Linked DNA regions of Homo sapiens: region 1 is linked to region 2. Evidence: fine-mapped expression QTL. Tissue or cell type: blood mononuclear cells. Region 2 holds a variant in brackets; the other region holds the start of a gene. All regions are shown on one strand. Distances are from middle to middle.

Region 1 (2,678 bases), 130 kb before region 2:
GGGCCTGGGAGAGGAGTCCATCAGCTCCTGTGTGCTTCCCTTCAGAAGCCTCCGGAGGCCGCCTAAAACGGACCCACCCGTCCCTCCCCAGTAGAGTGGACTTACTTTAAGAGGATCAGAAAGGCTGCGGGCTCCACGTCTGGAATGTGAATTTCAGATTTGACTTCCGCCAGGTCTCCGTAGAACATGGCATAGAAGACGGAGCTGCCGACAGCCAAGACGTACTGGGAGGAGAAAGCGCCGCCGTGAGCCTGGCTCTCCCGCAGGCTGCGTGTCAGCCACACGGCGGACGGGGCGGACGGGGCACGCGTTCCGAGAGGGGCCGCCGCTACCCACCTTGTGGGCGGGCACCGTCCTGGTCGCCCCCGGGGGCCCCACGACGAAGTGCACGTCGGCCATGAGCTCGTTGTTGAACATGAGCGCGTTCCTGCAAAGGTAGAGGCACGGGCTGGGGGCGTGGGCGCGCGCGGGCGCGGGGGCCGCGGGGCACGGGCTCACCTCTCGCGCAGCGTGGGGCGGCAGCACCGCCAGCCGGGGCTCTCCTGGTGGTTGTTGCCGAGTGTGGGCGGCGCGGGCGCGGGCGGCGGCGGCGCTGGCGCGGGGGCGCTGGGCGGGCTGCGCGGCCCGGCCTTCCTGCCCACGGCGGCGCCGGCGTTGCTGTTGGCTAGGTCCGCGGCCGCGGCGCTGGCGGGAGCGTAGAGTTCCGCCGCCATCTTCGCGGGCGGGGCGGCGGGGGCAGCCTCGGCGCCTGTGGACGCCGCGCCCCGCGCCCTCGCGCCGCGCCGGGGCCTCGGGAGCGGCTCTGCAAGCAAAAGCAAGGAGGTCAGGCACTGAGCGACGCGGCCGTGCAGGCAGGCTAGGGGCAGCAGCATGGGCGGCGGCGGCGCTGTGACCCGCGGGGCTGCCACCCGCTCCCCTGCCACCCCCGCCCCTGCGACCCTGCCCGAGCCCAGCCTAGCGCAGCCCGGCCAGGCCCGGCCGCGGGGGGCGCCGTCCCGCCCGCCCGCCCGCCCGAGCCCGTACCCGCCGCGGCGCCGGTGCGTCACGCTGCGTCAGGGCCGCGCCCCGCGCGACGTCGCTGCCTCGCGGCCCCGCCCCCAGGCCCGACATCCTCGAAGCTGCTCGAGCTTCTGCCCAGCAACCGGCGCGAGCCGCGCGCTGTGCAGAGGTAGCCGTGGAAGGCGGCTCCCGGCGCTGGCAGGCGGCCGCCCCCAGACCCGCAGTGCCATGCGCAGGTGCTTGCGCCCGTTCTTCAGTTAGCGATCTTTTGGTTAGGAACGCAGGTGGACCTGCTTGTTTGGCCATTTGCATTCCGGAGTCTGCCTCTGGCCGCGGCCTGTGGGATGGTCGTTGGGCTTCCTCGTTCGTTCAGATGCTTCGCGATTTAGCTTGCTACGGACGCCAGCAGCCAGCGCTTGCAGAGAGCGCGGTCCACTCTGCTCTGAGGGCTTTACAGGGGCAGGCGCTGCTATTTCCCGGCATTTTCCTCGAGGAAATAGGCACAGAGAGGTTAGTCGCGCGCTGAAGGTCACACAGCCGGCGGGTGGGCAAGTCAGGATCTGGCCCTGGGCCTGCAGCCCTGGAGCTTGGGCCCCAGGGCGCGCCCTGCCTCTGTGGCTCTGCCTGTGGATCGCAGTCGCAGGCTCGCTCCTTGTGGGGCCTCTAGCCTCCCGGCCTGGGGCTAATCCTGGGAGGTGCGTGGCATGGGGCACTGGCTTTGCTGATGAGGAGACCAGACTTCAGAGGCCGTGTCACCTGGCCTGGGCCGCACAGCTGGTGCATGCCAAGCTCGCGTGCAGACGAAGCTCCAGAGGCCTGGCTGTCAGGAGGGTTCCTCCCCGAGGACACACACGCAACCTCCTGGACCGCCAGGCTTTAGACTTTTAAAACTTCCATATGCAGGAAACCCCACAGGACGCAGCCAGCATCTCGGGTCATGGGTGCACCTGTCACCGCAGTCCTGGGCTAAACAGTGAACAGGAGCTCTGTGTCTCTGTGGTCGTTACAGTTGTAGTGAATGTTCCCTGGGAGAGTCCTCTTCAGAAGATATTTGCGGTATTTTCAACAAAGGACTCTCCAGGATGGAGGAGCAACTACAAGTCAGGAAGGAAAAGGCTGACAACCCAGTTTTTTAAAAAACGGGCAAAGGACGTGAACAGACACCATGCAATGGCCCAGAGTGCACAAATCATCATTTCTCCCAGGAATGGGGTGCCCGAGCCCCCAGGCGGCTGAACTTGAGACTTGTCACGTAGTGTTGGTGGAATGCAGAGCAGCTGGAGATCACCTGCTGCAGGTGGGTGCGTAACTCCGCACGGCCAAGCCGTTTGGAAAGCTGTAGCATATGCATGAGAGTCCGGAAAGTTCCGAGAGAAAGTGTGTGGATGCACCCGCCAAGGACACACCCACCGAGGCCACAGCTGCGATTTCATAGTGTGGGACCCCACTGGCAAAGACACGCTGGCTGCTGTGGCCGTGGTTTCTGTCCCAGCCGTCTGTTTCCATAGAAAAAGGTAACGGGCATAAGCAGTTTCCAGGAGAAATACAAATGGCCAGAGTGGAGACAGCCTACATGTCCATCAGCAACAGAAAGGATCAGCAGGTTGTGGTGGGTCCATTTGGGGAATGCAGTGAGAAGGAATAACTTACAGCAGCACACAAGACCTGGGCGACAGCTG
Region 2 (2,678 bases):
GTCTCAGGAAACAAGATGACACAGTTGGGCTTTTCAAATGCTGAGCTCAAGGCCTGGTCAGAGAACAAGGTTTCCATCATCACTGAAAGAATCTCTTCTCTCTTAAGGCTGTTGAGTCTGGTGTGCCCTCAGGTCAGCCTCAGGGCATTATTGGGAGGTTTGCTGAATGCCAATGTAGACCGGACTTTCACCCTCCCTCAGGTCTCTTCTGTGAGAATCAGGGCATGGACTGGGAAGGTGTTGGACCCCAGAATCAGGAGGGGGGCGATGAGCTGCATACCCTGACAATCACACCAAGAGAAGTAGCCCCTGTTTGATGGGTCTGGTCCTGCATTGTTTGAAGACCTCTCTGTGACCTCACCTGATGTGGTTACTTTGCAAGCAGGTGCTGATTTCCATCCCACTCCACCACTACCAACCTCACCACTTCCAAACCTGCAATTACAATCAGATCCCGGCATGTCCCAGGGGTATCAGCACAAACCTAATTTGGGAAAAGAAGGCTTACACATCAAAAGGTTTGCAAGATTTGTCATTTATATTGTTAGAAGACTGGGGGTGTGTGTGTGGGGGTGGGTGGCTTCTGCAAACACTAGACCTGGGAGGGAAGCACAAACTTAAAGATTAGAGTCTGTTGAGCTGTGTGCATTTACAAGAGATTCTGAATTCAATATTTTTAGTTCAAGAAGCTGGAAGTGGCCGGGCGTGGGGGCTCATGCCTGTAATCCCAGCACTTTGGGAGTCCGAGGTAGGCGGATCACGAGGTCAGGAGATTGAGACCATCGTGGCTAACACAGTGAAACCCTGTCTCTACTAAATATACAAAAAATTAGCCGGGCATGGTGGCGGGCACCTGTAGCCCCAGCTACACAGGAGGCTGAGCCAGGAGAATGGTGTGAACCCGGGAGGTGGAGCTTGCAGTGAGTGGAGATTGCGCCACTGCACTCCAGCCTGGGCGACAGAGCAAGACTCCATCTCAAAAAAAAAAAAAAAAAAAGAAAAAGCTGGAAGTGTCTCTAACATTTTTCTTCGTTGGTTGATTGAAGCCTGAGCTCCAGAGTCACCTCCATCATTGGAGGCTGAGCCGCTGAAGTGCCTTGGCATGACATAGAGGAAGGAGTGCAAAGTGAGGAGAGAGGCACTCATCCCCTGACTCTCCCCATGAAGACCCTGAGGAAAAGCCCCTCACCACGGCCTGGGAAATAGGCAGGAGAGCAAATGCTGGCATTTGGGCCAGTCCCGAGGCTGTCCTCCACAGGTGGGAGTGAGAGAGGGAGATGCTGCTGTCAAAACGGCTCCCTGCCTGCCATGGGGATGATGGGCGACCACATCCCAAAGGGTCAGATCGTAAAGACAGAAGCAAAAATGAACGGACTCAGGTTGGTTAGAACAAATAAGTAAGTCTAGGAGCTAATTATTTGGGGATGAAATCAAAATAAAATAGAAAAGCAATGAGAAAACCCAATCAAGGAGAGAAAAGAGGCACTTGCCCTCCACGT[C/T]GCCCGCCTGGCCCTCTTCCAAGTGCACTTTCCTTCCTTTCCTTCCTGCTCTAAAACTTTTTAATGAACCTTTGCCTCTGCTCTGAAACTGGCCTCGGTCTCTCCTTCTGCCTTGTGCCCCACAGTCAAATTCTTTCTTCTGAGGAGGCAAGAATTGAGGTTGCTGCAGACCCCTACAGACTCACCACCGGTAGCTCGGATTCCTGCCACCAATAGCATATGTTGGTGCTCTGTGACTTGGGTAACTTCTGCTGTTAACATACTTTGCTGCGTGACTCCAATATGTTCCCTAGTGGTAAGAGGCCTCTATGCCTCACCTTCTTCTGCTAGAGGCATTCAACCCCCATACGCAGTTTTCTTCTCCTCTTTCTCCTGCTTACTAACCAAACCCCAGAACAATTCCTCTTGGCCATAAGTGACTCTGCTCCCCTGGCTGATTTCTCAGCTCACCCTGGCAGGTGGCTTGCCAGGGTGGAAAGGATCTTAAGGTCCTCACCAAGCAGATTGGAGGTTAGAATTTGGCCCTCCTGGGCAGGAGGCTCTCGACAGTGGTGAGGCTAAGGCCTAAACCCATGCAATGTCTGGGGTTTCCTCTGCTTTTTCAACAAAAACCAGCTCTTTTCCCAAAAACCTGCACTGCCCATTCTCCTAATTTCTCTTTGTGTTCTGAAAGGGCCTTCAGCACCCAGGCGGACCATCTACCTCTGCTTCCACCCCGTGTGCCACGTGACTTCTTAAACACACTCCCTGGCCGGGCGTGTTGGCTCATGCCTGTAATCCCAGCACTTTGGTAGGCCTAGGCAGGCAGATCACGAGGTCAGGAGATGGAGACCATCCTGGCCAACATGGTGAAACTCCGTCTCTACTAAAAACACAAAAATTAGCCAGGCGTGGCAGTGGGCACCTGTAGTCCCAGCTACTCGGGAGGCTGAGGCAGGAGAATGGCGTGAACCCGGGAGGCGGAGCTTGCAGTGAGCCAAGATCGCACCACTGCCCTCCAGCCTGGGCGACAGAGCGAGACTCCGTCTCAAAAAAACCAAAACAAACAAAAAAAAACACACACTCCCTCCTTTGGTCCCATCCCTCCTTCTGACCTCCCAACTTGGCCATGCATTCGCGTGCTCGCGGCTCTTGCTGTGTTTGTGGGGCAGCAGAGACATGGGTTCCCGTGCAGACATC

The links. PIP is the estimated chance that this variant, and not a neighbour inherited with it, causes the effect.
Region 1: it holds the start of BTBD6, and the variant in region 2 is fine-mapped to the expression of BTBD6 in blood mononuclear cells (TOPMed, PIP 0.94).

Annotation. Positions count from the first base shown.
Region 1 is chr14:105,246,906-105,249,583 of GRCh38, reverse strand. It overlaps BTBD6 (BTB domain containing 6), which reads right to left and starts at 1,051. Exons shown (of 4, transcript NM_001387567.1): 1 at 499-1,051; 2 at 337-427; 3 at 106-224. The coding sequence starts at 872. All of the region lies in intron 5 of BRF1 (BRF1 general transcription factor IIIB subunit), which reads left to right. RefSeq lists silencers at 450-499, 700-1,259 and an enhancer at 635-1,425.
Region 2 is chr14:105,114,696-105,117,373 of GRCh38, reverse strand. No RefSeq gene overlaps it. Among named protein-coding and RNA genes, the nearest start is that of LINC02298, 22 kb to the right of the region's middle. The variant C/T (reference allele first, on the strand shown) is at 1,500.